Homo sapiens: one gene and its partners. The protein of the gene in region 2 interacts with the protein of the main gene of each other region in a biochemical or structural test. Each region holds a gene or a part of one and is shown on either strand. Other genes may lie near its edges. The genes, in order: RUNDC1, TNKS, GMDS, LNPEP, HNRNPM, AXIN1 and PLCH2.

Evidence for each region.
Region 1: the proteins of TNKS (region 2) and RUNDC1 interact in a test that uses a peptide from one of them, tested with the Homo sapiens proteins (one large-scale study listed by BioGRID and IntAct).
Region 3: the proteins of TNKS (region 2) and GMDS form a complex in vitro, tested with the Homo sapiens proteins (one study listed by BioGRID).
Region 4: the proteins of TNKS (region 2) and LNPEP form a complex in vitro, tested with the Homo sapiens proteins (one study listed by BioGRID).
Region 5: the proteins of TNKS (region 2) and HNRNPM interact in a test that uses a peptide from one of them, tested with the Homo sapiens proteins (one large-scale study listed by BioGRID and IntAct).
Region 6: the proteins of TNKS (region 2) and AXIN1 form a complex in vitro, tested with the Homo sapiens proteins (2 studies listed by BioGRID).
Region 7: the proteins of TNKS (region 2) and PLCH2 interact in a test that uses a peptide from one of them, tested with the Homo sapiens proteins (one large-scale study listed by BioGRID and IntAct).

The regions. Positions count from the first base shown.
Region 1 is NC_000017.11:42,986,545-42,990,693, reverse strand, and holds part of RUNDC1 (RUN domain-containing protein 1), read right to left. Parts: intron 3,439-4,149; coding exon 3,280-3,438; intron 1,354-3,279; coding exon 1,155-1,353; intron 378-1,154; coding exon 258-377; intron 1-257. UniProt on the Homo sapiens protein: May play a role as p53/TP53 inhibitor and thus may have oncogenic activity.
Region 2 is NC_000008.11:9,562,086-9,566,234, reverse strand, and holds part of TNKS (poly [ADP-ribose] polymerase tankyrase-1), read right to left. Parts: intron 1-4,149.
Region 3 is NC_000006.12:2,235,372-2,239,520, forward strand, and holds part of GMDS (GDP-mannose 4,6 dehydratase), read right to left. Parts: intron 1-4,149. UniProt on the Homo sapiens protein: Catalyzes the conversion of GDP-D-mannose to GDP-4-dehydro-6-deoxy-D-mannose.
Region 4 is NC_000005.10:97,022,919-97,027,067, reverse strand, and holds part of LNPEP (leucyl-cystinyl aminopeptidase), read right to left. Parts: intron 2,548-4,149; coding exon 2,386-2,547; intron 452-2,385; coding exon 311-451; intron 1-310. UniProt on the Homo sapiens protein: Release of an N-terminal amino acid, cleaves before cysteine, leucine as well as other amino acids. Degrades peptide hormones such as oxytocin, vasopressin and angiotensin III, and plays a role in maintaining homeostasis during pregnancy.
Region 5 is NC_000019.10:8,465,009-8,469,157, forward strand, and holds part of HNRNPM (heterogeneous nuclear ribonucleoprotein M), read left to right. Parts: intron 1-315; coding exon 316-507; intron 508-1,226; coding exon 1,227-1,380; exon of another isoform or gene 1,381-1,606; intron 1,607-2,493; exon of another isoform or gene 2,494-2,526; coding exon 2,527-2,576; intron 2,577-3,765; coding exon 3,766-3,826; intron 3,827-4,149. UniProt on the Homo sapiens protein: Pre-mRNA binding protein in vivo, binds avidly to poly(G) and poly(U) RNA homopolymers in vitro. Involved in splicing.
Region 6 is NC_000016.10:296,947-301,095, forward strand, and holds part of AXIN1 (axin-1), read right to left. Parts: intron 2,259-4,149; coding exon of another isoform or gene 2,238-2,258; exon of another isoform or gene 2,065-2,237; intron 1,353-2,064; coding exon of another isoform or gene 1,329-1,352; exon of another isoform or gene 1,314-1,328; intron 1,306-1,313; coding exon 776-1,305; intron 281-775; coding exon 110-280; intron 1-109. UniProt on the Homo sapiens protein: Component of the beta-catenin destruction complex required for regulating CTNNB1 levels through phosphorylation and ubiquitination, and modulating Wnt-signaling.
Region 7 is NC_000001.11:2,474,627-2,479,536, forward strand, and holds the start of PLCH2 (1-phosphatidylinositol 4,5-bisphosphate phosphodiesterase eta-2), read left to right. Parts: upstream 1-1,662; 5' UTR 1,663-1,962; coding exon 1,963-2,086; exon of another isoform or gene 2,087-2,894; coding exon of another isoform or gene 2,895-3,078; intron 3,079-3,849; coding exon 3,850-3,996; intron 3,997-4,910. UniProt on the Homo sapiens protein: The production of the second messenger molecules diacylglycerol (DAG) and inositol 1,4,5-trisphosphate (IP3) is mediated by activated phosphatidylinositol-specific phospholipase C enzymes. This phospholipase activity is very sensitive to calcium.

The DNA of each region.
Region 1 (4,149 bases), on a different chromosome or scaffold from region 2:
TAATAGCTGTATTGAGATATAATTCACATACCATATGATTCACCCATTTAAGGTGTTTAATTCAGTGGTTTTTAGTATATTCAGAATTGTATAACTGTCACTGCAATCAATTTTAGAATATTTCATCCTTCCCAAAAGCAAATCCATACCATCAGCATTTCTCATTCCCCTCTTCTCCTCAACACACCCAAGCCCTAGGCAACCACTCATCTACTTTCTGTCTCTAGAGATTTGCCTGTTCTGGAAACTGCACTTACTTTTGCTGTTTCCTGGAGGCGTTCTGCTGCTGCCTGTTCTGCTGCAGCCATTTCCTGTCTTCCCACCGGCCTTGCACTCACAGTGTCCACCACCTGTCTGCAAGGGGCTTCCCACTTCATCTGGAATCAGAAATTATAGAAGAGACACTTATTTAGCCCTTTATGGCAGATCTTTAAAGGAAAAATAATACTTAATGGTGCCTATTAGAAACAAGAATTTCACAAACTCTTGTCCTATTTAATTGTGTAAAATGAGGACTGGCATACAGTAGTTGGCTCAATAAATATTTGCTAAGTGAATGAACCATGAATCATCATTTTATGGATGACAAGAGAGACTGAAGAGTTAGTAACATGCTCAAGGACATAAAACCAATGAGTATGAGAGTGGAGATTTTAACTATCTGATTTTGAAACCCATGCACTTTCTACTCTGCCAATGCTGCCTCCCCTACTAAGCCATCAAGCCTCTTAAATAGTACATCAAGAATTGGCACCTTTTGGCTGGGCATGGTGGCTCATGCCTGTAGTCCTGGTACTTTGGGAGGCTGAGGCAGGCGGATCACTTGAGGTCAGGAGTACGAGACCAGCCTGGCCAACATGCTGAAACACCATCTCTACTAAAAATACAAAAATTAGCTGGGTGGGGTGGTGGGAGCCTGTAATCCGAGCTACTCAGGAGGCTGAGGCGGAAGAATTGCTTCCATCTGGGAGGCGGCGGTTGCAGTAAGCCAAGATTGTGCCACTGCACTCCAGCCAGGGGAACAGAGAGAGACACTGTCCCCACCGCCCAAAAAAGAACAAAAAACCAGAATTAGAACCTTTTTACTAGTACTTAGAATAAGTATAATTATTATGACACCTGTCCACCCTTCTCATCCCATCCCCTCCTCTAACCTTGGATGAAGTTGATAAACATCTCAAGGTCTCGGATCTGAGTTTTCAGTTGCTCAACCAACTGTTCTTTGACTCGGGCTGGGTTGACGATCTGAGCCACTGCTGCATCTACACGCTGACGAAGCTCTTCAGTGGACAGGGAACTGATGTCCTCATTCAGATTCATGTCCAGTTTCTTTATTAACTCATCTATGATCACCTACCAAGATCACAAGCAATGAGCACACCCTTTGGAATTTTTAGGGAGAGGGTTAGGAAGGAGAATCTAAAAATGTCTTCTGTCCTTAAATGGAAATAAAAAACAGACCTCTAAATTTGTGAAAGTAAATGACTTAACTGCTGATTGATCAAGGTGAGGACATAGACTCTCTACTTTTAAAGTAAAAAGAACCCTCAGTTCTCTGATAAAAATGGATCCTCCCACTCACAGTAAATTTCTACCAGGCTAGTCAGATTTCACTCAGGAAAACAACAGTATGAAAAATCCAAAGTGGCTGATGATCCAACAAGCCTTATATTTAGTTGCTCTAAAGGCTTCAAGGAGAATATATACTGATTTTTAAGAGACAGGGTCTTGCTCAGTCACCCAGGCTAGGGTCCAGTAATGTGAGCGTAGCTCACTGTAACCTCAAACTCCTGTGCTCAAGCAATCCTTCTGCCTCGGTCTCCCCCATAGCTGGGACTATAGACACACGCTACCACCTAGTTAATTTTTAAATTTTTTGTAGAGACAGGGTCTCGTTATGTTGCTCAGGCTGGCCTCAAACTTCTGGCCTCAAGAGATCCTCCCACCTCAGCCTCCCAAAGAATTGGGATTACAGGCACGAGCCACTGCAACTGGCCTGATTTTTCTTAATTTCTAATCCTTCTTATCCCTTCTTGCCCTACTGTAGGCAACTAAAGAAAAATCTCTATAAAATATCAAGGTGCATTATAGCCAAAATATCCTAGTGACATTATTAGGAACAATTTAAAATTCTGATAATAGGCTGGGTGCGGTGGCTCACATCTGTAACCCCAGCACTTCGGGAGGCCAAGGCGGGTGGATCATTTGAGGTCAGGAGCTCAAGACCAGCCTGGCCAACATGGTGAAATCCCATCTGTACTAAAAATACAAAAATTAGCTGGCCATGGTGGTGGATGCCTGTAATCTCAACTACTCGGGAGGCTGAGGCAGGAGAATTGCTTGAACCCTGGAGGCGGAGGTTGCAGTGAGCCAAGATCATGCCACTGCACTCCAGCCTGGGTGACAAACTGAGACTTTGTCTCAAAAAAAAAAAAAATCTGATATCGTAAACTCCAGCCCAGCCAGAAAAACAGCCACAGCACAGGGGTAGAGAAACATGCAGGGGAGGTTGTAACTGTATCTCTACCAAGAGATTTACCTGTCTACCCAGGTCTTACCTAAATAAATACAGTATTAAAGTCAGTCTGGATTCCTGGCATGTTTATCAAAAGGTAGTGAGTAGTAGGAAAAAGCTAGATTACGGCCAGGTGCGGTGGCTCACGCCTGTAATCCCAGCACTTTGGGAGGCCAAGGTGGGCAGATCACCTGAGGTTGGGAGTTCGAGACCAGCCTGACCAACATGGAGAAACCCCATCTCTCCTGAAAATACAAAATTAGCCCAGCATGGTGGCGCCTGCCTATAATCCCAGTTACTTGGGAGGCTGAGGCAGGAGAATTGCTTGAACCCAGGAGGCAGAGGCTGTGTTGAGCTGAGATTGTGCCATTGCACTCCAGCCTGGGCAACAAGAGCAAAACTCCACCTCAAAAACAAAATAAAACAAAACAAAAAAGCTAGATTACATTGTATGATGGGCCCAAGTAGAATTTTTTAAGTGATCAAATGAAGAAATTATTGTTATATTCTTATTTCTATTATTAATTACAATCACCAAAAAGAAATAGCTCAATTATCGTATTACAAAACTTTGGAATCTGTGTTTTCCATGTGTGAGCAAAGAAAGGTTCCTCATAGCAGTAAAATTTCCCTTTGATTTGGGCCAGCAGAGGGATTCTCAGTAAGGCCAAAGGAGAACTGAGCTGAGAGAGGATGCCCTGTGAATGCTGGAAGGGACAAGTTAACCTCGGGCAGTGGTGGAGGTTCCTCTGGGGTCTGCTCACCCGCTGTCTTTCCAACACCACGGACTGTGGCAGCGAGTCATAACTGCCCTCTTGATAGGCAAACGTTTCCAGGTCATCTAGCTGGGTCTTGAGCTGCAGTATCAGTTCTTTCTGCTTCTCCCTTTGGGTTTCCAGACGCTCTTGCTTTTCCTGCTCACTCTAAGGCAAGAAAATAATTGGGTCTATTATGCAGGCAAAGGGAAACTCAGGGCACATTAAGAATCTGCTCGAGCCAGTAATGACCAATAAAATATAAGATGTTTCCAATAATCCAAATGAAATACACAATTCATACGATAGATTCAAAAGTAAGAATAATTATTTCATCCTAGGCAATTTGTCAAATGGGTGTTTTCTTTAAGAAACTATCTGTCCCTCATTGGAAATAGGATATTAATACAATGAGGCTTTTTGTTAAGACTGCCTTTTTTCCCCCAAAGGTCTAGTTAGGGTAGAGACAATCTATCTCAGCCAAGATAGCCTCCCAGGAATTAAGACATGCCATTCTCCACAGCCAGTTACCATAACACAACTCCTGATTACTCTGTGCAGCCAAATTTTGCAAAAGAATCTGGGGTAAGGGTGTGGAGAGAGGCTTTAAAACTCATAACCAGCTGGCCGGGCCCGGTAGCTCACGCCTGTAATCCCAGCACTTTGGGAGGCCGAGGCGGGTGGATCACGAGGTCAGGAGATTGACCATCCTGGCTAACACAGTAAAACCCCGTCTCTACTAAAAATACAAAAAAAAAATTAGCCGGGTGTGGTGGCGGGCGCCTGTAGTCCCAGCTACTTGGGAGGCTGAAGCAGGAGGATGGCGTGAACCCGGGAGGCGGAGCTTGCAGTGAGCAGAGATCGCGCCACTGCACTCCA
Region 2 (4,149 bases):
GTACCTCAAGACATTAGAAAAAAATAGCTAAGATGTATTAACTAAGTGTAATTCTATGTCATTTCTTTTGAAAATACCAAATTTCCACAGTCAACATGAGAATAACCCAAGCATTTGGAAGAGGAGACCTGCACATCTTATTAACATGACTGATGAGAATGTCAAAATGGTTTCTACGGTTGATGAGTATTATCAGAATGAGGGCATCAGAACTTTTCAATGTCTACTTACTATGTATATAATATATATGTCAACATATAATTTGACATATATAATAAGTTATATACATGTAGACACAAAAAAGTGTGTATACACACACTTTAACAAGGCATCAGGGAGTTTAGTTTATTTTTATTTTTATTTATTTTTATTTTTTTTGAGACGGAGTCTTGCTCTGTCACCCAGGCTGGAGTGCAGTGGCGTGATCTCGGCTCACTGCAAGCTCTGCCTCCGGGGTTCACGCCATTCTCCTGCCTCAGCCTCCCGAGTAGCTGGGACAACAGGCGCCCGCCACCACGCCAGGCTAATTTTGTGTGTGTGTATTTTTAGTAGAGACGGGGTTTCACTGTGCTAGCCAGGATGGCCTCCATCTCCTGACCTTGTGATCCGCCCTCCCAAAGTGCTGGGATTACAGGCGTGAGCCACCACGCCTGGCTGGTTTAGTTTATTTTTGAACTAATGACACAGAGACTATAGCTTTAAGGTTTTTTGAGTCAATCAGTAAATTTAAAACAAATTTTGTTCAGTTTGGACTTGTAGTTCATGGAAATCATCTGCTAACTACCAAATGCTTCCTCACTTTAAAAGAAAATATACCAAAGAAGAAAAAATAAACAAGTCCAAACATCTGCCACCTACCAGCAGTTTAGTTTGTTCTACTGAAAAGGCAAAAGGGATAGAGAAAAAATTTTACATCACGTTATTTTCCCTCTTCCAAAACCAAAATAAATAAATAAATAAATAACTTGTCTAAATTGAATGGGGAGCTGACACACTCCAAAAAACAGCTTAAAAAAAAGTTTACCCTCACGCTGCTTTAATTCTATAAACAGATACCTGAACAAACTGGCAAAACAAGATTCGAGAAGAGAACTCAGTAACTCGCTCTGGTGAAAGCAAACTTAGACATCTGATGAAGCCTTAAAAGAAAAACAACGGGCACACAAAAACAAAACACCTAAAACTTTCCTCAATTACTTGAAATCAAAGTGATTTTTTTTTTTTAATGAGCCCCGGGGTTATCCTGAGCTCCTAGGCTTTAGTAGAAATCCCTAGGAAACCCACCCTACTCATTTTTTCTTGAAGATATAATGCTTTTTATTCACCAAGAAACTGAAAGTCCATTTCTGAATGTTTCTTTCTCGTGTATGTTTCATTGGTTTTATTAAGCCCCGTAAGGGGAGGCTGCACCTAGCCCTCAGACTCCAACCCATCTTATCTTAACTAATCCTATTCAATTCTTACTATAAGTATCTATTAATGATGCATGGTATTAGGTGCCTCAAGAGCAGGGCTACACCAAAACTTAGCTATCAGAAGAATAAACATAAGCCAAAGTAGCTTCAAGGACAATGACATGGGGAAAAATAAAAAGGTAAGAAGCAACTGCCTTCAATTTTATCTACTGCAATATTTTATAGTAAGCTACCCAAAGATTCTTTGTCTATGACACAAAAGGAGGCTGTTAAAAATATTAAAGACTAAACTACTATAGTGTTTTCTCCCTCATGTCATCACAGAGCTCATGTTTATTCCTTTCCAAAACCAAACCTAACATTACAATAAAATTTATTTTCTCAGAATTATTCACATTCCTTGATTACTTTTCTTCTGGATTCTAAGCTTGAGATTTTTTTTTTTAACATATTTATGCTCACAACTCGACCTTTGATGATATGCCTCCTATCCTCCCAATGTATTTCTCTGGCCTGTTAACTGTCAAAGAATCACTTCCCGTCAGGAAAGAACACCTGGCCTGTGACCTATTCAATTCATTGATGGGGTAGGGAATGCTTTACAGGTGACTGGACTACACTTACCAAAAAGACTAAATAGTAATCTATCAGGAAGAGACTTTATCTATAAAATGCCCTTAGCACAATGTCTCCGGTTAAGGTTCCTGAAAAAATGTCTCATAGGTTATATAAACAGAGGTATAAAATGATGATGTTTCATAATTTAAATGCTACTACTGTAAAAGATGATCCTGCAGACCTTACTGAGAGACTTGATCTATTCTAGGCCAGAGCTGCAGGTGTAGCACAACAAAAAGGGACAGGGGGGATTACCTTAACTATCTCAGACCTTTATTTTTATCCTTGAAATTATTTAGTAATTAATTTCTGTAAAAATGAGCAACGAAAGTAACTGAGGTCAAATACATACAAAATTCTTACAAGAAGAATTTGGAGAATAACATCCCCGCAGACAATTAATACCTAACAGAAAAAAATGCCCACAAAGCAGACAAAATTATAATCAATTATTTTAACACTAGCTAAAAGAGAATACGAGAATGATACAAGATATGAACGTATAGCATGTGCCTGAGTTAGAAATAAAAGGAGAGAGTTCAGAAAATAATTCAAAATAAAAGAAAAAATAATTTCAAGAAAGGACTACAAAAGAAAGAACACAAAATGGAAAAAATGCCACATATAATGCCTTATAACAGAGGTCAGCAAACTACAACCCATACACCAAATCTGGCCCATCACCTATTCTCATAAATAAAATTTTACTGGAACACAATCACACTCATTCATTTACATATAGTCTATGGAAACTTTCACAGTATAAAAGCAAAACTGAGTAGCTATGAGAGGGACCATATGGCTACAAAGCCTAAAATATTTACTATCTGGCCATTTACAGAAAGTTTCCAACTCCTGCCTTAAGAAAAATAGAAGATGAAAGGAGAAAAAAAGTTAATAAAAAAAGAAGATATATATTTTTTAATAGGATTCAAAAGAAAGTGACAGTTATCAGGGGTTTGGGGGCAGATAGACATAGTTTAATGGGTACAAGAGCTTATTTAAGATGACAAAAAATGTTCTGGAAATGGACAATGGTGATGGCTGCATAACATGGCGAATGAACTTAATGCCACAAAACTGTACACTTAAAATGGTTAAAATGGTAAATTTTACATATATCGTATTAAAGAAATGGAGCAAGTAACAAATTTAGAAGAGGCAAAGTTTCAATATACATAAAAAGAAAAGAACGAATAATAAAAAGTATAATTTGAGAAACTTTTCTGAAATAAAAGATCTGAAACTATGTAAAGAAAAGCCATACCACATACCTGAGAAAATCTATCTAGAGAAACGAACACCAAGACATACTGTAATAGAATATCTGGTCTTTAATGGAAGAGAAAAAAAAAATCCTTTGCCCATCTAGAAAGAAAAAAAAAAGGCTAAGGGAAGGAAATTCCCATTCTCATCAGACCTTCAACATTAACAGCTCTTAGCAGGTCCTTGAAAAATAAAAGTTTAGGTATGGAAGAAATGATGGCCAGATGCAACATAGAAGAGGTAAGTAAAAACCCTATAGTTCTGAGTTTGAATTGGAAGTATCAATATTAGTTAATGAGGTAGATTAAAAGACACAGATTGTCAGAATGTCTTAAAAAGCAACACTCACATATATACTGTCTATAATAGACACACTTTAAATATAAAGGCAGATTGATTGAAAGTGAATGAATAGAAAAATGCCACACACAGCATAAGAATACTGAAGTGGATATAGTCACATCTGATAAAATGTAGCTAAAATCATAAAGATTTTCATAGGATATGTATGAGAACTTCTATGACTTGGGGCCAGATAAAAGTTCTTATCCAGGTGATGAGTCAGAGAAAGCAATAACCATAAAATAAATATATAAATTAAATTTAAAATTTCTATTCAAATGACTCTCATTAAGAAAATTAATCAGTAATTCATAGCCTGGGAGAAAATATTAGCACATTTATCCCACAAAGCACTAGTATGCAGAATATATAAAGTACTCTTAAACTTAATAATAAAAGATAACCCAACAAAACTGAATAAAACTGAAGTGTGCCCAGTAGAAAAAAAAAGGACAAAACTTCATAAAAGATATATAAGGCCAGGCGTGGTGGGTCACTCCTGTAATCC
Region 3 (4,149 bases), on a different chromosome or scaffold from region 2:
ATATAAAATGCCTCCCCCAGGGACAATGCCTAATTCATTCCATACTAAGCACCCAAATCCAGGTCTTATCATTTTGTTCTTCAAGCAAAAAGAAAACAAATGCAAAGCTGGAGCTCCCCATAGTCTGCATGGAGACATAAGAGGAAAACTGGGGCCAGGCACAGTGGCTGACACCTGCAATACCAGCACTTGGAGAGGTTGAGATGGTAGAATTGCTTGAGCCAAGGAGTTTGAAACCAGCCTGAGCAGCACGGCAAGACCCCATCTTAACAAAAAAAAAAAATACAAAAATTAGCCAGGCATAGTGGTGCACATCTGTGATCCCAGCTTCTCGGGAGGCTGAGGCCAAAGGATCGCTTGAGCCCAGGAGGTTGAGGCTCCAGTGATCTGTGTTTGCACTGCTGCACTCCAGCCTGAGCAAGACCCTTTCTGGAAAATAAAAAAAAATAAAAAAAATAAGAAAAAAAAAAAAAGAGGAAAACTGGTCTGTGTTGCCAATCTGGTAAGTTTCAGGAACAAGGCAAACAAATGGTGTTGGGAGCCAGTTCTCTATGGGTCTCTCCAGTTTCTGCATGTCTTATGAGCAGATTGCACTGACAGCTTTTATTGGCTACTATCTTTCCTGTACAGGACATCTGTAGATAGCATTTTAAGATAGCAATAGTGTTTCTCTCTGGAGCAGATGGAAGATTTGTTTGCTATGCAGAATAATAAAAATAATGTCTCCCTCAAAGCAAAGGCTGGGCAGGATTATTAGTTCCCTTATAAAAAATTGGGGTTTCCCAATCTCAGATTTTCTCAACTGTGGTGCATACCCACTGCATGGGCAACATCCACCTAGACCCACCCAGCCACCGTGTTACCCACATGGTCTTTGAGGGGCAAGAAAATACTATACAAACAGAGCTGTCACAAACATGAAGTTCATACTGCCTGCTGACCCAGGAGTGCTGTGTCTTCTGCCATCATCCGTGGAATTTTAAGAAGCTAACTTGTTAGCCTGCAAGTAAGGTAAAATCTCAGGCCTCCCACAATTCTTGACAAACAGGGTTTCTGCTGTCTTTCTCCTTGACTGGGTTTACTCCAACAAGCATATATGCCACACTTGCATTTTGTCCTGCAGGTCTCTTGCAACAAAGCTTCCATTTTGAAGGATTCCACTGTAAACTACAATAAACACGTTTATCAATATTGATCACCAAAAAATACTACTAGTGTCTGCATATACTTGCAAAATTCCAATTCATCATTTTTAAAGAACCGATGTAAAAATATAGTTCGAATAAAGCAATACTAAAAATCTAACTTTTGTGAAAAGTGATAGAAATACAGTACCATTCTAAGAAACATAGAAAAATCATGTTTTGATTTTAAAAGATTTCTAAAAGTGCCAATTAGAGGCTTTTTCACTCAGCATTAAGGAACATATTTTTGTTAAACATGATCAAGCAATTCATTTCACATTACAATCAAACCAAATGCTCAAGCATAATATATATATAATACAACCAAGCTTTGGTGGTTCATTTTCCCAAGTGTAATTAGTCAGTATAAAGAAATACTTTCTATAAATCCCTAGTAAATACCTTTATTTTTTCACTCTTAAGTTTAAAAGAACTTAGTATGAAGATCTGAGAAAGGATTCCCCTAGAATCACATGTGGTAAATTGTTTAAAAGGCACAGTATGAACAGTCTGAAACAAATGAAGTAAATACCCTTCAGCCAAGAACGTCACTGCATATAAAATCATCTAACCTCAAGTCTATGTAACTCAATTCTACATAAGTAAATGCCAAAATAATATCCTGGAAAGCTGAGTCATTTCAATGAGTAAATTTATATAAACAATTGGGTTACTACTTATGGTAAGTCACAAGATTTTGGCAGGAAAATTGCTTACTAGCTTGCCAAAGACTAGGTTTGGCACATTGGTGCCCCACTGCCAAGAACATTACTGATAATCAGCTTTCTATCCTATAGGATTACCTTTCAGACATGTTTTACTCACTCATTTCCTATGTATTAAGCTTATACAGGAATGGTTAATGCAACTGAGCACCTTACTTCTGGAAGTGTGAGATTCCCAAAATTCCTCAAGAAAGGAAGAAAAGCATGAGAAATTGTAAATTGGAAGTTTGGAAGTACCTTTTTTTTTTTTTTTTTTTTTGAGACAAAGTCTCGCTCTGTCACCCAGGCTGGAGTACAGTGGTATGATCTCGGCTCACTGCAAGCTCTGCCTCCCGGGTTCAAGCGATTCTCCTGCCTCAGCCTCCCGAGTACTTGAGATTCCAGGCGCCCACCACCATGCCAGGCTAATTTTTGTATTTTTAGTAGAGATGGGGTTTCTCCACGTTGGCCAGGGTAGTCTTGAACTCCTGGCCTCAGGTGATCTACCCACCTTGGCCTCCCAAAGTGTTGGGATTACAGGCATGAGCCACCTCGCCCCGCCTGGAAGTATCTTTAACATTAGGAAATGCAAATAATCAACAAATAAATAAAGGAGAAAGAAAGGAGAAAACTGAAATATACTAAGAATAGCCTGGTTAACATCAATCATGAAACTAAAGGGAAAGTGTTAATTTTCATGCCTTCTAAGTAAGAGCTACAGAAAGTTCTGGGAGACAGGGAAGAAGACTGGCTAAAGGTACAGCACAGCAGCATGGCCACCTTTAGGACTTGCCCACTCTACAGCAGCCACCTCTGAGCACTTTTAAGTCATTTTTAAGACAAAGAGGCCAGGTGCAGTGGCTCACACCTGTATTATCAGCACTTGGGAGGCCAAGACCAGAGGATTGCTTGAGGCCAGGAGTTCAAGACTAGCCTGGTCAGCTGGTGAGATCCTGTCTCTACAAAAAAAAAAAAAAAATAGTAAAAAAATCAGTCAGGCTTGGTGGCAGCTACCAGGGAGGCTGAAGCAGGAGGATCACCTGAGCCCAGGAGTTCAAAGCTGCAGCGAGCTATGATTGCACCACTGCACTTCAAACTCCAGAGGAACAAAATAATTCACTGTCTTCCCCCAGAAAACTGATTTTCCTTCCCAGTGGTTGCATTTCTGGCCATACTATTACCATCCAACCTGTCACCAAAATGCATTTGCATCCTTGATCTCATTATCCTCATACTTTTACTATTCTCATTCATCCTACATACCCCTAACTGCATTCCCAAGCACTTCTCCATCCTTCTCTCATTCCTTCCCACTGTGAGAACTTATTCATAATAAATAAGAACTATCACTTCATAAACACTACATGCCAGGAACAGTGATAGGCCTTATTATAATATAATCATCATTTGTAATCCACACATCAATTTGTGATGTGGGCATAATTAACTCCATTTTTCTACCCAAGAAAAACCCAAGAATTTAAAACTCCTTCCTCTATCCTAATTTCCCTGATTTGAACTTTACAAACATGTACCAAAATATCACACATACCCCATAAATATGTACAATTATTATGTACCAGTTAAAAAAAAAATCGTTCCTCACCAAAAAGTCACTTCATTCATTTGATATGTCCTACAAAGATGGACAGCTCCAAGTTTTCACTCTATCCTTACAAATTCTGACAACATACAACTCATATGAATTTCTTCTTAGTTTACAAACTTAATTTCAAATTCAGTAAAATTAATAGTTCATTGGTTTCATTTAAAAAAAAAACTATCCTGGCCGGGCACGGTGGCTCACGCCTATAATCCCAGCACTTTGGGAGGCCAAGGTGGGCGGATGACTTGAGGCCAAGAGTTCAAGACCAGCCTGGCCAACATGGCAAAACCCCAACTCTACTAAAAATACAAAAATTAGTTGGGCGTGGTAGCGCACGCCTGTAATCCCAGCTACTCAGGAGGCTGAGGCACAAGAATCACTTGAACCCAGGACACGGATGTTGCAGTGAGTGAGATCATACCACCATTGCACTCCAGCCTAGGCAACAGAGTAAGATCTGTCTCAAAAAAAAAAAAAAAAAATCCAATTGGCTTTATGTCTAAAACTGAAATTACTGCACTGCTTAAATATAAAGATAATTGCATAATTTCTCTATTGTACACATAATAAGTCAGCATGTAATCCAAACATCACACTACTGTAGACTAGGAGCAGCCCTTAGATCCCTAAGAATAACCAGGTAACCCTTTCACTT
Region 4 (4,149 bases), on a different chromosome or scaffold from region 2:
AGAGGTATTTTTCAATATGCATAGCTAAATGGTTGCTATGAAATAGTCTGTAGCCACGCTGAGCTAAGTAACCTGGTGCCAAGCAAGGCTAGGCTTAATTAGAACTTAGATGGAATGCTACTGTTAAATGATTCATGCTATGGAATTATGTTAACAAATGTGAAAATTTCCGGATGTTTCAGTTAAACTGTCATGGAAGTATTTTTCCTCTCACAGCAAATCCTAACTTCTGTGAGCCAAAACACTGGGAGCTTTTTTCAAATGCACAACTTGAGAATACTAAAAGTTAATAATTCTCTGAGAAACTTACTTCTGTACAAGCTTATTCCAGTTCTCTTTGACAAAATCCCATGCCAGTAAGTGTCCAGGAAAATGTCGACCCACTGTTCTAATGATAAAAGACAGCTTCTGTGTTCGGAAGTTATCTCCATTCAGGCTACTTTTCATTAACCTGAAGAGCAAAGCAGATTTAGCCTCCAAAATTATTATTCATGAAGAAGTGATGACTGAACTTAAATTAAAATTAGTATGGTTTCCTAATTAAAGCTGTGTAGCAAATTGAGAAATAACTGTTGCATTAGTCTACGGTTGATCTATAGATTGAAAATGTCATTTTTTTTAAATGAAGAAAGAACTCACCAATAAAATAGGCATTTACCTATATTGTCACATGACAATAAATAGTTTTTAAATAGTAAAAACATTTAGGAAATAAGTTCTGGTAGAATTTATTACAATTCGGGAGGTGGGTATTTTTTTCTGGTAAAAACCTTATTTGATTTGAATGGGCAGGTTAATTATATTACTATTCTTAAAAAAAACTAGGTCATTTGAATTATTTGAAAATTAGGATACATTTCAGAATATACTCTTATTAATGTTCGTAGCAAACATTTACTGACACTATGTACTAAATAATGTTCTAAGTCCTTGACACAACAATGCTATAAAGTAGGTATTTATTAATACTACCTAACTCAATTTTATAGTTGAAGAAACTGAGGTTATCTAATTGACCCACAGTCACACAGTAATAAATACCAAAGCCCGACATCTGAACAAAAGCAGTTCTCATCTACTATGCTATACTATCTGTTTATAGTGAGAAACCACGCCCCACTCCAAGACTGTGGCAGTATTTTTAGGAGAGAAAAAAACAAAAGCCCAACAAAACGTGATGGATTAAATAAATTATGATAGGGCCATACTACAGAATATTATGAACCCATAAAACACTTTAGTTTTTTTTTATATATAAAGCAGGCTTCATGAAGTGACATGGAAAATCTCATAGACTGATCATTCACTAAAAAGATGGTCACAAAACACTGGGTATGGTATAAACCTAATATGGTTTTTAAAATGCAGTTAAATATGTAGGTATGTGTGTATGTATGTACGTACATATGTACAAATATCCATTCCCACAGATGAATACAAAGACCAGGACTGACACTGTTGTTAACAGAGAAAACGAGAATGGAAGTGAAGGATCATGAGAAATACTTTCATATTTTACTCTATATTCTTAGGTACTGTTTAAATTCTTTATCATGGGCATTCTTAGTGTATTACTAGCATAGTTTAAAAACAGTGATTTTTCTCTATTTGCTTAAGTCAGAGGCTGGCTAATACTTTAAAGAAAATGACTATTTACAGCGTATCTTTTGGTAAGTGGGTCTGGACAGGTACTGAGGACATCTCTGGGACACTATTAAGATTTATCTGAGCAAAATCATACAACAGAAGTAATGAGACCCAGAAGCCTCCTTCTATCCTCAGTGCGACTTCTAACACCTGTGCTCTCTACAGCAGATACCTCTATATTCCTCTTGGCTATGTAGAGCTCCTCTACCCCACCACTGCCTGTTCTTCCTGTCAGGAGGCCCTACTTACTGCCCTACCTTCATCCATATGACACTCCTACTTCTGGGCCTTCATCACTACATATTAAAAAGGAAAAGTCTGACAAATAAATTCATATGAACGTAGAACCTAGAAGGTTTAATATGTGATTTTTTTTTTCTGAAATGCCTACATTTTTAAAATGACAGCTTGCACAAAGCAATGCCTTGGTCCTAAACTATGGAGTACCAATTGTGGTGTATAAGACAACATTCCAAGGGGAGGAAGACTTTTTGAGCAAGGAGTAGGAGGGGGCTGTGACTCCTGACATCTTGTAATCCCTTTTGGGCAAAGGATTTTCTGCTTGTCCATAAAGATAAAGCCCAGCACCTGTAGTCTCCTCACCACACTGTCCAACTTAGGCCTGGCCTGTAACAGAAGTGGGGAAAAGAGATCCCCTCAAAAATGAGCTCCTGACCAAGAGCACAGTGTTTGTATTCTTTTGGTTTCTGTATATCATATTCCTCGGTGATTTCATACCAGTAAAGCTTCCGCACATCCTCTGAGCTGGCAAGTGCTTCTAGTATTTTGTTCTTCTCTGCTTCAGAGCCTATAGAAATGTATTTGCCCAAAAGGAATGACCAGCCTTTGTCAGTTTTTGCTCCAACTTTGAACACAGTTGTCATGACATCAGTAGGTAGGCTGTAAGAGAGGTGGTCAAACATGAGAATAACAAGAAAATATTCTGAATACAAAGGCGAAGAGTTGGCTGTGGTGGAGTTTCTGGTGTGAGGGTTGGTAATAATAACAAGTTTGAGTACACAATTTAGGGTTGAGAAAAAGTTTAATTCAGTGACTGCTATCTTCCTAGTAGTGTGTCTATGGATACATCAGTTCAATTTAATATTCACAGAGTACTCACAAAGAACCAGGCAGGCGACTGGCTGGACACTAGGGAGCGGAAAAGGAATGAGAGCCTCTGTCCTCTGAGAACTCACAGGCTACTACGAAGTATAGAGCAATAACTATATGCATTACAATTCAGTGTGATAAGTTTCATGGTAGAACTATAGCAGTAAATGGGGTGCAGGGAGAAAACACAGTCTACTGCCTTTATTAAGATCTCAGAGCTGGGAAAGACCTCAAAACGTTATCCAAATCCTCCACCCCAACTCTTCATCTGATGCTTGAATCTTCTCTCCATAATGCACGGTAAGGAGCTGGAGAGAACTAATTACCCCCAAAAGCTTTTCTGTTAACTGCTAACTCTACCTGCTATGTTTTATTTCTAAATTAAGAGACTTGTTTATCACCTCACACCCATTAGGATGGCTGCTATCAAAAACCCAGAAAATGGCAAGTGTTGGCAAGGATGTAGAGAAATTGGAATGATGGTGCAGCTGCTGTAGAAAACAATATGGCAGTTCCTCAAAAAATTAAAATTAGAATTACCATATGATCCAGCAATACTACTTCCAGGTGTATTTCCAAAAGAATTGAAAGCAGGGTCTCTAGGAGATATTTGCACACCAATGTTCATGGCATTATTATTCACAATAGCTAAAAGGTACAAGCAGCACAAAGGTCTATCCAGGAATGAATGGATAAACAAAATGTGGTATATACATACAATGGAAAATTATTCAGCCTTTAAAAAGAAAGAAATTTTAGCCAGGTATGGTGGCTCATGCCTATAATCCCAGCACTTTGGGAGGCCTAGGTGGGCAGATTTTCTGAGGTCAGGAGTTCAAGACCAGCCTGGCTAACATGGTGAAACCCCGTCTCTACTAAATATACAAAAATTAGCCAGGTGTGGTGGCGGATGCCTGTAATCCCAGCTACTCCGGATACTGGGGCAGGAGAATCAATGGAACCCGAGAAGTGGAGGTTGCAATGAGCTGAGATCGCGCCACTGCACTCCAGCCTGGGTGACAGAGCAAGACTCCATCTCCAAAAAAAAGAAAAGAAAGAAAGAAAGAAATTTTAATGCATGCTACAACATGGAAGAACCTTGAAGACGTTATGGTAAATGAAATGAGCCAGTCACAAAAAAGCAAATTCTATATGACTTTACTTATATGAGATATACAGTGTAGTCAACCTCACAAAAACAGGAAGTAGAATAGTGGTTACCAGGGGCTGGTGGGGAGAGGGAGTGAGGAATTATTCAATGGGTACAGAGTTTCAGTTTTGCAAGATGTAAAAGTTCTGAAAATATAGTACACAATAATGTGAATATGCTTAACACTACTGAACTGTACAGTAAAAAATGGTTAAGACAGTAAATTTTATGTTATGTGTATT
Region 5 (4,149 bases), on a different chromosome or scaffold from region 2:
AATTTCAGTCTGGCGGTTCTACATTATATCAGCTAATCATGTTTCCCTCCCTACCCTGCTTTTCTTTTTTACTTAGTGCAATTGAGAGCTGTGTTTTTAGTGCTACACTTCATGCCTTTTCTTCCTTTCCTATTTCTTTAGCTGGACTCTTCTAAGCTGGTAGTTGAGTTCATTTGACTTTCTTGTTAATAGATTTGAGAGATGCTTTCCAAACAACCTTTCAGTTTCTAAGTCTTGAGAATATCATTTACTGTGCAAGCATGGTTTGCGTTGTACTGGGTCAGTTAAACGTAACACCTTTTGTGCTTGTTTTAGGATCCTGATGGTGAACATGCCAGGAGAGCAATGCAAAAGGTGATGGCTACGACTGGTGGGATGGGTATGGGACCAGGTGGCCCAGGAATGATTACTATCCCACCCAGTATCCTAAATAATCCCAACATCCCAAATGAGATTATCCATGCATTACAGGCTGGAAGACTTGGAAGCACAGTATTTGTAGCAAATGTAAGTAAACAGAACCATCGTCTAAAGTAGAAAATCAGAACTTTATGAAATGACCTTGTCAATATGTTATAAAAGTAATTCTCACATTTGAGAAGAAAAATGTAAAGAAGGGTTTTGTTCTTGATTTCTTTAAAAATCAGCCTTATAGGCGGGCTTTGTCTGCATTCCTAAGTCACAGGCTTGACCGTGGTCTCGTTGGGGCTGTGATTCCTGAGTTTCGCAGGTGTTTCCGCAAGCAGTAACCGAGTCTGCATTCTCCGTTGGTTTATTTTATGCAGTTTTGGTGCAGAGTAAGACTGTACGAGCAGAAGTGCACTGACACCTTCCTCTTGTTGTGTCTGGGGTGAATGATAATACCTCCACCATCTGCAAGGGGAAATATTTTTAGAATAAAGTAGGTTGGGTGGGGTGGGGAGTGGTAAAGCTTATCAGGGAAACAATTTTTTAAAAATGTTCAGAAAATGAGTATTAATTTGAAGTATGAGGTGACTTAAGTTTCTGAGAAAAGAGACAATATATTTACTATAGGTACAGTTTATTTACAGTGAAGGCCAGGCTTTATAATCCTATTTTAAAATTTCCATTGCAGTTGATTAGTTTTTGTGACATTATTTCCTAATACTTTTTTCCAACCAAAGCATGTATCATTCATGTAGTAAAAATGTTGTGTTTCTTAAGATGTTTACATTGAGGTTTTTACCCCGTTCTCTCTCGATTAGCTGGATTATAAAGTTGGCTGGAAGAAACTGAAGGAAGTATTTAGTATGGCTGGTGTGGTGGTCCGAGCAGACATTCTTGAAGATAAAGATGGAAAAAGTCGTGGAATAGGCACTGTTACTTTTGAACAGTCCATTGAAGCTGTGCAAGCTATATGTATCCTTCTGCAGGAATTCAACTTATGAACAGTTTGACCTAAATTGCTGTGTTAGTAATGTAGGTTTGTGTGAGGAAGAGGTGACTGTGTGTATTCATGTTTTTTATGTGACTAGGGGGAGTGCATTACTGTGGAATTAAGAGGTTCTCTGGGCCGGACCGGTCACGGTGGCTCACGCCTGTAATCCCAGCACTTCGGGAGGCCAAGGCGGGCGGATCACTTGAGGTCAGTTCGAGACCAGCCTGGCCAACATGGTGAAACCCCGGCTCTACTAAAAAATGCAAAAATTAGCTGGGCGCAGTGGTGGGTGCCTGTAATCCCAGCTACTCGGGAGGCTGAGGCACAAGAATCGCTTGAACCCGGGAGGTGGAGGTTGCAGTGAGCCGAGATTGCGCCACTGCACACCACCAGCCTGGGTGATAGAGTGAGACTCAGTCTCAAAAAAAAAAAAAAAAAAAAAAAAGGTTCTCTGGGGGTGGAATTGATTCAATACAGTGTGGATAGAGGGGATGGTTACAACATGGGCATATGCCCATGAGTCTTTCTACTGTTTTCTTTTCAGAAGAGTCTAGGTTTGAAGGAGGAAGTCCAAAGAATGTGCTACTAGAGAGAAAGTGGGGTTGTTGTTTCATGTGTAATACATCCTTATAGGACCTCACTCTTTCCAGTGAGTAGACATCATTTTGGAAGAGGCCACTTCTCCTTGACCCTAGGCTTAGCCTAGAGTTTTTAATCCCTTGGAGAGTACCCCACAGGAGCACATTCATACAACTCAGACAAGACCGTCACTGCATGTCTTACCCAGAAAACATGGTCCTTCAGTTTAGATAGTGGTAGATGCCTGGCCCATTGGTCACATTCAGAGAACCTTGATGCCACTGCTTAAGAGGATGGTTTGGTGAAATTGTAAGGTTACGAATGAAGCTTCACACCTAAGGAATAAGCGGAAGTTGTCTTGTCCTCCCCGCCAGCTTTATTTATTGTTCCTTTTATGTTTATTGTTGAAAGTATAATGAAGAATTGAAATTGCTCATAAATTCATCACTTAGAGGGACTGGTAGCAGTTGGAGTATTTTTCTTTCTTTTTGTATTTCTCTTGTGCACATTTTTAGAATTGCAAGAAATAGCCTTAATTGTAATACCAGCTATGTTCAATGGCCAGCTGCTATTTGATAGACCAATGCACGTCAAGATGGTAAGTCAGTAGGATCTTTCTCTGTGATATACTCAAGTCTAGCAAAAACATGGAATTAATAAGAGTGTACATATAGCCACTATGAAATATTTGTGGATTAGTCTAAGTTAAATAGGGTGCAGTATGTTGAGCAAAATTGTGAGAGAAATAACATTTTGCTGGTCAGGCGTGGTGGTTCACGCCTGTAATCCCAGCACTTTGGGAGTCTGAGGCAGGCGGATCATGAGGTCAGCAGTTCGACACCAGCCTGACCAACGTGGTGGAACTCCTCCGTCTCTACTAAAAATACAAAAATTAGCCGGGCGTGGTGGCACGCGCCTGTAGTCCAGCTACTCGGGAGGCTGAGGCAGGAGAATCACTTGAACGTGGGAGGCAGAGGCTGCAGTGAGCCGAGATCGTGCCACTGCACTCCAGCCTGGGCAACAGAGTGAGACTCTGTCTCAAGAAAAAAAAAGAAGAAAAAAAAACATTTTGCTCATGGCAGCTCTTGACTGCATTAGATATTTTTCCTTTTGCACAGTTGACTGTTCATGGCGCATTCAGGAAGTCACCTGGGTATCCTGGTTGAGCAAGTGATCCGTTTCAAAGAATGGTTATATATGTGGGGTTCCAGTTTTTCAAAGTATTACAGTATAATGTTTGGTTAGCATCAAATCTGTTGTGAACATAATTAAGTCATTGATTCAGACAGCTTTTAAAGGTCTGTTGGAGCACTTCAATCTTAATAAACATTTGCTCTGCCGTAACTGTGCCAAAGATAATAATTACTACAGGCATGACTGGAACATGCTGAGGGCAGTCTAGTTGGGACTCAAATTCAGGAAAAAGATAAACTATAAAGCAATTTTTTCATTACTCTAAATAGAGTAGGTAAGTTTTTTGAATAGATGATAGATTCACGTGACTCAAAAGTCAAAAGGCATGAAAAGGTAGTGTGAAGATAGTGTGAGTCCTACTTGGACTTCTTGCCCAGGTCCCCATCATCCCCCACAATAATATCCATGTGTCTTTTCCCTTGACATAAAATAGGAAGCATGCTCCGCATGCCTTTCTACCCTTGCGTATTACTCCATGGCGTGGATAATGTGTTTAGCTGGTCCTCTCTTGATGGGGGGCCATTTCAGTCTTTTGCTGTTGCAAACACTGCTGCACTGGATACTGAGATTTGTTTGTTTTCTTTCTCTTTCAGGATGAGAGGGCCTTACCAAAAGGAGATTTCTTCCCTCCTGAGCGTCCACAACAACTTCCCCGTAAGTGTTTCAGTGATTAGGGCTGAGAGTTTGAATTGGAGTTACACTAATAAACAGAAAATTACCATATGGTTTCACTTGAACCTGTGCCAGGTTAGCCCTCAGTTCTCTTGGCCAGTTCTTTTCTATAGATTTTTCAGGGTGAGAAATGAGCAGAGATTCACAACTTGAGGATATTGTTAGGATTACCTCATGGTAATCCTAGGATTGTAATACCAGGATGTAGAGGATGTGGTTAGGCATTTTGAAAGTGTCCTGGGGAAGGAAGAATCAGAACCTGTGAAGGGAATGAAAACCAGGCTGCACTCTAATTCAGAAGATAC
Region 6 (4,149 bases), on a different chromosome or scaffold from region 2:
TCACAGGCGACACTCGCCACACACACTGAAGCTGCACACACTGAGACTGTGCGGAGGCCAGGGGTGGCAAAGCAGGCCCCACGAGGCTGGCTGCGTGCGGGGTGCTCACCCGTGGCCGGTCCTGCGGTGCCTGCTGATCTCCTTTTCCCCCTCAATGATCCACTGCATGATTTTCTGGTTCTTCTCCGCATCCTCCGAGGCACCTGGCACCTCGGTGCTGGCGCTCTTCCCCGACTCAGCCTTCTTGGCATTTCTTTTGCACGCCACGCCCACCTTCCCACTGCAAGGGCAAGAGCTGCGAGTCGCCCTGGCCTCCGGTGGCCGAGGCTGTGCCCCTTCCTCGTCTGCGAGGCCCCCTCCTGGCATCTGTAAGGCTCCCGTGGTGCAGCCGCCGCCCGCTGTCCCCTGCCCGCTTGTCCCCCACCCGCTGTCCCCCGCCAGCTTGTCCCCCACCCGCTGTCCCCTGCCCGCTGTCCTGGTGCTGTCTGGGGGTTGGTTTCCTCTCTAAACACACAGGCAGTCACTGCTCACCCCCTGAAGACTGAGGGCCAGAGCGGGAGCCAGGGTCGGGCTGTGTCCCCTAACCTTCATCTCCCACCTGAGGTCACGGCGTGGACTCCCCTGACCCAGGGCCCAGTCCACTCCCTCCAGCAGAGGGGCCTCCTGCCTGTTGCTGGCGGTCCTGGGTTTCCTGAGTTTTATGAGGAGGTTCTGGCCTTCTGCAGGGACACAGCCTCACCCCAAGCCCCCTCCTCACTGACAGGCGCACGCTCACCTGTGGGCGAGGCCATCACTGGCGTTGGGGGCAGCGCCAACACTCTCTGAGTAGCCTCGGGACCTTGCCCCATGGCTGTGTGGTTCCAGGCCCCAGGCGAAGCTGCTCTGGGCCCTGCGGGTGGCCTCGGCCTCCACCTGCTCCTTGGGCCGGGCTGTGCTGTGGTGGACGTGGTGGTGGACGTGTCGGTGGTGGTGCAGGCCGGCCGCGTCCAGCTTCGCCCCTGACTTGGGTACGTGCTTCCCGTGCCCCGAGGCGGCACCCCCCAGTGCCACTGGCATCTTGGCCACGTGCCCACTGTCCGGGGAGCGATGGCCAGGCCCAGGCGACTGGCGGCCAGGTGTCCTCAGCACACGCTGTACGTGCTCGTCCAGGATGCTCTCAGGGTTCTCCTCGTGTGCATCCCGGAGCCCGGCACAGCCCATGTCCACACAGCGGGGCGGGAAGTGGTGCCAAGCGGGGGCGGGAGGCAGCTTGTGACACGGCCCTGGGGGCCCTGACGATGGATCGCCGTCCTCACCTTCCTCCTCCTGTGTGGGGACAAGCAGCACCATCACCTCTCAGCACCAGCTGCACACTTGGGGAAAACAAAAAGCATCAGGCCTGACCCAGCAGCCCCAGCAGATGCCGTCCCAGCCCAGGGTGGCCGGGGGCCCCTCGCCACCGGTCCTGTCCCTGAGGATGGAGAGGCAGGACGGGGCATAGACAGAAGGAGCGGAGACAGCAAGGCCTCAAGGAATGCAGCGTATGTATCGGCTGTGGGCAGAGCTCTGCACAGATTTAGTTTAGTTTTATTCTTTTTTTGAGACAAGTTCTTGCTCTGTTGCCCAGGCTGGAGAACAGTGGTGTGATCTCAGCTCACTGCAGCCTCCGCCTCCTAGGCTCAAGCGATCCTCCCACCTCAGCCTCCAGAATAGCGGAGACCACAGCCGTGTGCCACCACGCCCAGCTAATTTTTTTGTACTTTGGGGACAGATGCGATTCTCACCATATTGGCCAGGCTGGTCTCGAATGCCTGAGCTCAAGCAATCTGCCTGCCTTGGCCTGTATATATATATATTTTTTGAGACAGAGTCTTGCTCTGTTACCCAGGCTGGAGTGCAATGGTGCCATCTCGGCTCCCTGCAACCTCTGCCTCCTGGGTTCAAGTGATTCTCCTCCTTCAGCCTCCCAAGTAGCTGAGACTACAGGTGTGCGCCACCACACCCAGCTAATTTTTGTATTTTTAGTAGAGACAGGATTTCACTATGTTGGCCAGGCTGGTCTCGAACTCCTGACCTCATGATCCACCCACCTCGGCCTCCCAAAGTGTTGGGATGACAGGCATGAGCCGCCGCGCCCGGCCTCCCATTATATTTTAAGGAGAACCTTGTACAGAACGGCTCTTGGGTTATGTACATGTTGTGATGCTGCCTGACGAGCTTCCACATGAAGCCGGTGGAGTTTCACTTGATTCTCCAAGTTAACAGGTGCTGAAGCTTATCTGTCAGAGCAAACATTTGATCACTTTAATTCCAAGTTGCATCTCATACTTATTTTCTCATCTTATTGGACTGACAAACTAAAACAGTATTGAGTAAATCTGGTGTCAATACAAAAGAAAGAGAGGGAACTAAGTTACCATGTATCTATGTATGTATTTATTTATTTAGAGTCAGAGTCGCTCTGTCAGCCAGGCTGGAGTGCAGTGGCACGATCTTGGCTCACTGCAACCTCCACCTCCCGGGCTCAAGCAATCCTCCTGCCTCAGCCTACCGAGTAGCTGGGATTATAGGAGTGTGCCACCATGCCTGCCTAATTTTTTTGTATTTTTAGTAGAGACGGGGTTTCACCATGTTGGCCAGGCTGGTCTCAAACTCCTAACCTCAGGTAATCCACCACCCTCGGCCTCCCAAAGTGCTGGGATTACAGGAGTGAGCCACCACAACCGGCCTATTTATTTTCATTTTTTTGAGACAGAGTCTCGCTCTGTCACCCAGGCTGGAGTGCAGTGGCACGATCTCGGCTCACTGCAACCTCCGTCTCCCGGGTTCACACCATTCTCCTGCCTCAGCCTGCCCAGTAGCTGGGACTACAGGTGCCCGCCACCACGCCCGGCTAATTTTTTATATTTTTAGTAGAGATGGAGTTTCACCGTGTTAGCCAGGATGGTCTCGATCTCCCGACCTCGTGATCTGCCCACCTCGGCCTCCCAAAGTGCTGGGATTACAAGTGTGAGCCACCGTGCCCGGCCTATTTTTATTTATTTAATTTTTTTTTGAGACGGAGTTTCACTCTTGTGTCCCAGGCTGTAGTGCAATCTCCGCCTCCCGGGTTCAAGTAATTCTCCTGCCTCAGCCTCCCGGGTAGCTGGGATTACAGGCACCCACCACCATGCCCAGCTAAATTTTTTGTATTTTTAGTAGAGACTGGGTTTCACCCTGTTTGCCAGGCTGGTCTCGAACTCCTGACCTCAGGTGATCCACCCACCTTGGCCTCCCAAAGTGCTAGGATTACAGGTGTGAGCCACCACACCTAATCGCAGTGGTGCCATCACAGCTCAAGGCAGCCTCAACCTCCAGGGGTCAAGCGATCCTCCTGCTTCAGCCTGCCAAGTAGCTGGGACTACAGGTGCATGCCACCATGTCCCATTAATTTTTTCTTTTTCTTTTTTTTTTGTAGAGATGGGGAATCTCACTATGTTGTCCAACCTGCTCTTAAATTCCTGGCCTCAAGTGATCCTTCTGTCTTGGCCTCTCAAAGTGTTGGGATTACAGATGTGAGCCACTGTGCCCCACCTACCTCTATATTTTAATATAAACAAACCTCCCAACGTTTAGCACCCAACTCTCACACCTGCAAAAGTATCCAAATGCAACTGGAACAGGCGTGCCCCAGAGCTGGTGTGGGCTTGGCTGCGGGCACCTGCACTGGGGCTGAGGGTGAAATATGGCACTAAAGAGGACAGACGGATGCTGGAGCAGAGCCGGGGGACAGGTGGGTGGTGGGCATCCCCTGGCGGATGCAGCTATGCTGCCTCCCTTTCCTTGGTTTTGTAGGACTAAAGGGCCCGGGCACTCTGGGGAGAAATCTTAACCGAGGGTCTTCCTAGGGACTAAAAGTGTTTGGAGTTTTGATGCCGTTCACTGCCTTGGCCGAGCTCCACATCGGCAGGAATTCTATCATGGGGCTGTGAAATGTTACAGATTAACTTAACCACTCGGCTAATGGTTTTTGTTTTCTTCTTTGTGCTTTAATTTCCCAAATTTCACAATGAAAATAGGTTATTTAAAAAATCTGGAGTTCACGCCTGTAATCCCAGCACTTTGGGAGGCCGAGGCGGGTGGATCACAAGGTCGGGAGATCGAGACCATCCTGGCTAACATGGTGAAACC
Region 7 (4,910 bases), on a different chromosome or scaffold from region 2:
GGGAGCAGAGGCCCAGCCTTGGGGAGCTTCAAGGAGGGATGGGTGAGAGACGGGAGCACCCCCAGCTGGGGCCAGGCCCAGGGTGAGGGAACAGCAGGTGTGTCCCAGGCCAGGAGGCCTCTGAGGTGCAGGAAGGAGAACTGGACCCCCTGGGTCAGAGTGGAAGCCCGCAGCAGCCCAGTATGAGGTGGGCAGGGGCCCTGGGCCAGGGCTATGGCCGTCTGGTCTGTCTCCAGGCCCTCAGGCCACCTCCTGGCCCCTGCGCTGCCCCTTACACGGTGGCCTTCCCCGAGGCCCTGTCTTCCTGAGGACGCCCGGGACTCCAGCCCCTCTCCTCTCCCTGCAGCTCATGGCTCCCTAATCTAATTCCACGGCAGAGCCCAGAAACGCCTGCTGACCTGCTTCCGCCGAGAGCAGCAGAGCCTGTGACGGGGCCCCTGGTGGGGGCCTGGGTTGGCTCTGTGCTGACTGCATCTGATCTGGCTGGGTGTGGCCCTGGTTGTCAGTGGTCAGCTGGAGACGCATGGCCATCTCCTCAGGGACTGCCACCTCCCACGCCTGACCTTGGCCCCGGGGCTCTGCCAGGATGCCCAGCCCTGGCACCTCCCTGTCCTGGGCTCTGCAGGCCAAACTCCTCCCCTGGTATGGGGGGAGGCGAGCAGCTGCCCGGAACCTTCCAGTCCTTGTTGCTGGAGCCAGTAGAGCCTGGGCAGTGGGTGGGAAGAAGGGCGGGGTTCTCCCCAGTGTGGTCACGAAGCATGGGCATGGCCAGGACACAGGTGGCTGGTGTTCAGCCGGGGTCTGCCCACCTCCCATTCCCACAGCTGCCCCTGGTGTCCCGGCCTGGACTTGGGGATGGGAGAGCCTGTGCTGTCCTGTAGTGCGGGGCCAGTACACAGGGTGGGCTGTGTGGTCCTGGTGGCAGTGGGACCTGGAGTCCTTTCCTCAGTGGGAGCTGAGACGGTGGGGTGGGTCCTCCTTGGGCGAGGCCCCTGTCCAGGTCAGATGGCTGTCATCCCTGCAGGGCAGAATGTGGGGACAAACGTGCCCTGGGCATGGGGCCACCTCCTCCGCCACAGCTCGGTGACCGTGGAGAAAGGTCAGGCTGGGGCTGCAGCTGCATGAGGGAGACATGGAGAGCCCAACCCAGGCTCAGGGACCCACATCCTGGGCCTGGGCTGGGAGTTGTCGCTGTAAGGGATCCGGCTCGGCTCCCCTCTCCAGCCACAGGGGCTGGGCGCTGCGGGGATGAGGTGAGCTTCTGCCCCTGCTCTGGGCCACCTGCCTCTGGACTTTGGGGATCCACTCAGAGGTCCTCATAAGTAGGGATGCGGGGTGAGGGCAGGGACCACTCCAGGCCCAGCCTCGGCATCTGTGGTGGGCGCACAGCGGGGAGGCCCACCCCACACAGGGTCCTCGGAGGACAGTACCCTGCAGGCCTTCCGGTTGCGTTCTCTGGGTCCCAGGAGGGCCCTCCCGTTGGTCCTGCTCTTGTCCCGCAGCCCTGACCTGGGTCTGGTGGCCTGGGGCCTTGGGAAACTCTGTTGCCTCCCCAGTGCCCTCCCATCCCCAGCTGGGAGTTCCCTCGGCCTAAATCCTCCACCAGCTGGGCTGGAGCTGGGATTAGCACAGGGATTGGGCCTGGGGCTGGGCGGGGCTGAGGTCCTTTGCTCCCCCAGCCTTGGGAGGCGGCTGCGTCAGGGATTCCTTGGTGGCCCTGGAGGGTGGATAGGCTGGCCTGGGGGCCATCAGGACAGCAGGTGACGGTCAGGCCAATGCCAGCCGGGCCTGGGCACAGCCCTGTGGGGGCTTCGGAGGGCCCTGAGGAGGAGGAGGAAGAGGCAGAGGAGAGAAGGCCCCACGGAGGTCCTGTCGCCAGCGCTGCCACTGCCTGACCTCCGCTGCCCGAAGGCCGGTGGGCCTCTGTGGCCTCCGTGAAGCAGGCCCGGCTGTCGTCAGGCCATGTCTGGTCCATGGCCCTCCCCCGACAGCCGGACCAAGGGAACGGTGGCCTGGCTGGCGGAGGTACTCCTCTGGGTTGGAGGGAGTGTGGTGCTGTCTTCAGAGTGGCAGCTCGGCCCCCTGGGTAAGAAGGGGCAGGCGAGTGGCCTGGGCTGAGTGCTGGCCCTGGCCAGGTGACTGGTGGGTGGGGGCTGTTCCTGGAGGTGGGGGAAGCCTGGGCCTCCATCCCATCCTGCACTCGCCTCCCCTGTCCCCCGGGTGCTCTAGGGATCATGTGGGTCCAGCAGCGTCGGCTGGCCCTGCCCCTCAGCCGCTCAGAGGCGTGCTCAGCACACCTCGGTCTCCCAGGCACCTGCAGGGCCTGGGGGCTGAACCCAAGGGGGCGAGGGGGGATCTCAGGTGGCTCCAATGCTCTCATTGAAGGGGTGCCTTGTGCTCTGGGGGTCAGTGGTGCTTGCAGCCCAGGCGGCTGGGCTGGCATCCTGGTGCCGGACATGAGGGCCTTTGCCGTTAGGAGACTCTGCAGAGGAGACTGGCTGGGTATGGCTGGGAGGGTGGAGTGTGTGTCTTGTGGTGGCCTGTGGAGGGCCCCGGTCCGGGCTGGCCTGCCAGCTCTCTGTTCCAGCGGCAGACAGGGTCCTGTCCAGGCTGCCCTGTTGCAGGCCTCTGCCCGCCCCCTGCCCCTGTGTCCTGCCTCACCCCTCTCCTAAATCCCTGCAGCCATACCTGCGTCTTCACCTCCCATGTGCCCCGGAGAGCCCAGCCCCCCATGCCATGGCTTCCATCCCTTCAATTCCCCTCTGCTCGTGATCACGTAGTAGCTTCCCCAAGAAGGCCCGGCCAGTACTGCCCTTGGTCCTCTACAACGCCCCCGCCAGGGTCCCTCAGCGTGCAGACCTGGGGTGGGGATTAACGTCTCTGTGCTTTAGCAGATGGTACCTCTGGGACCCGGGCTTTCTGTGAGCAGGTGTGCAGGAACCGAGGGGGTGAGACCAGTCTGTTCCTGGGCTGGGACAGCTGACTCTGGCCTGGACTCCCTGGACCCTGCAGCCCCCTCTCCTGGGACAAGCTACAGCAGGAGGCTGAATGGAGAGAGGAGGGGAGAGAAGGAGCGAGGCAGGCAGCCTGGGGGAGGGGAGGGGAGGGGTTGTGAAGCTCGGATCCGGCACCACAGCCTCCCAAGTCCATACTGCAGTGCAGGGCGTGCGACGCAGACATTCATGGCACCATTCGTGGCGCTTGTTGCACATGAGGGGTGGGGGCTTTCCTGGAGATGCCCCAGGCAGGGGCACAGGCACTCAGGAATTCGACCGCTCCCAGGAGCCACCTGTGGCCAGGGGCGGGGGCAGGGGCATGGGGTTGCTGCCTGCTAGGCCCACCCCGCCCCTGACAAGGGGCCTCCACTGCACTATGGCCCCAGACAGCCAGCCCAGCCACCTCATCTGTCTTGCCTCGTGCCCGGCCTTCCCATTGTTGAGTTCTGTGCTGGCTCCGTCTGAGTGGTAGCTCTCGGGGCCCCAGGCCCAGCGCCGGTTACCAGGGCTGCTAGGACTGGTCCAGGAGGTGGTGGGAGTGGCAGGTGGCCGAGCAGGGTGGGGAGCAGGGCCCTCAGTTCCCAGGACCATCTGGGGAGGAGTGGCAGGGCCCAGCTGAGCTGTGTGACCCAGGCAAGCCGGCACCTGGGGTGGAGGTGGCCCTGGGCTCTGGCCTTTGCCCTGTCACTGGCAGGGCGGTGTGGGCGGGGCCGGGCGAGGTGAGGAGTGGCCGTGCCTCCGCTGACGGCCGTGTTTCTCCCGTGAGGAGTGGCCGTGCCTCCGCTGACGGCCGTGTCTCTCCTGCGAGGAGTGGCTGTGCCTCCGCTGACAGCCGTGTCTCTCCCGTGTCCAGTGGAGCGGTGCATGGGTGCCATGCAAGAGGGGATGCAGATGGTGAAGCTGCGTGGCGGCTCCAAGGGCCTGGTCCGCTTCTACTACCTGGACGAGCACCGCTCCTGCATCCGCTGGAGGCCCTCACGCAAGAACGAGAAGGCCAAGAGTGAGTGGGAGCCCTGGGGTGGGGACAAATCAGAGTCCCTGGGGGGACACGACGGTAGGGACCCTCCCAGGGCAGCCACTGATGGCTGAGGAGCAGCGAGACCCTAGGCCTGGACACCTCTGGGCTCAGTGGCCTTGGGGATCTGCAGTGACCTCGGGCTGTGGGGTAGGAGGGATCCAGGCCCCCTGCCCGCCTGGCAGAGCTCCCTGGGACTCAGTGAGGACCGAGTAGCACTGTGCCCAGCCCTGTGCTGAGTGCTGGGCTGGAAGGAGGGGCACAGCATAGTCCATCTAGCTGGGGAGGTCACAGCTCCCCATAAACAGAAACGACCCCCACAGAGGTATGCTGATGGATGGGTATGGGTGCAAACAGTGGCTCAGGCAGCCACTGGGCATGGCTGCTGGAGGGAGCAGGGGCCACCCGAGATGGAGGCTCTGTGCAGGGGGTGGGTGGGGAGAGTTGAGGCACACAGGGAACGGGTAGGGTCCCACGGTTTGGGGAGAGACATGGCAGTCCTCAAGGGCTGGGATCAGGGCGCAGCCAGGGTTTCTGATGGCTTTGCTGATGGTCAGGACCCAGGCATGCCAGGCAAGGCCTCAGCCCAGCAGTTGCCAAGCGTGTAGCCACTTTGGGCCCGTGGAGAGAGTCGCGCTGCGGAGCCCCCAGGGGGACCTGAGGTCACAAGAGCCTCGATGCACCTGAGCGCGGAGCTGGGGGTCCCTGGAGCCGCTGTCCCCACCTGCGGCGCTGGAGCCCTGGAGGTGTCCAGGGGCTTCCTTGGAACGTGGAGACGTGCTGGTTAAACGTGGAGCCCCGGGCCAGCCGGGCACTGGGGGCTGCAGGTGGAGGGAGGTGGATGCTCTCCCTCGTGGGGGCGTGTCTTTTCCACAGGAAAGGGAAAGGGGGAGGGACAC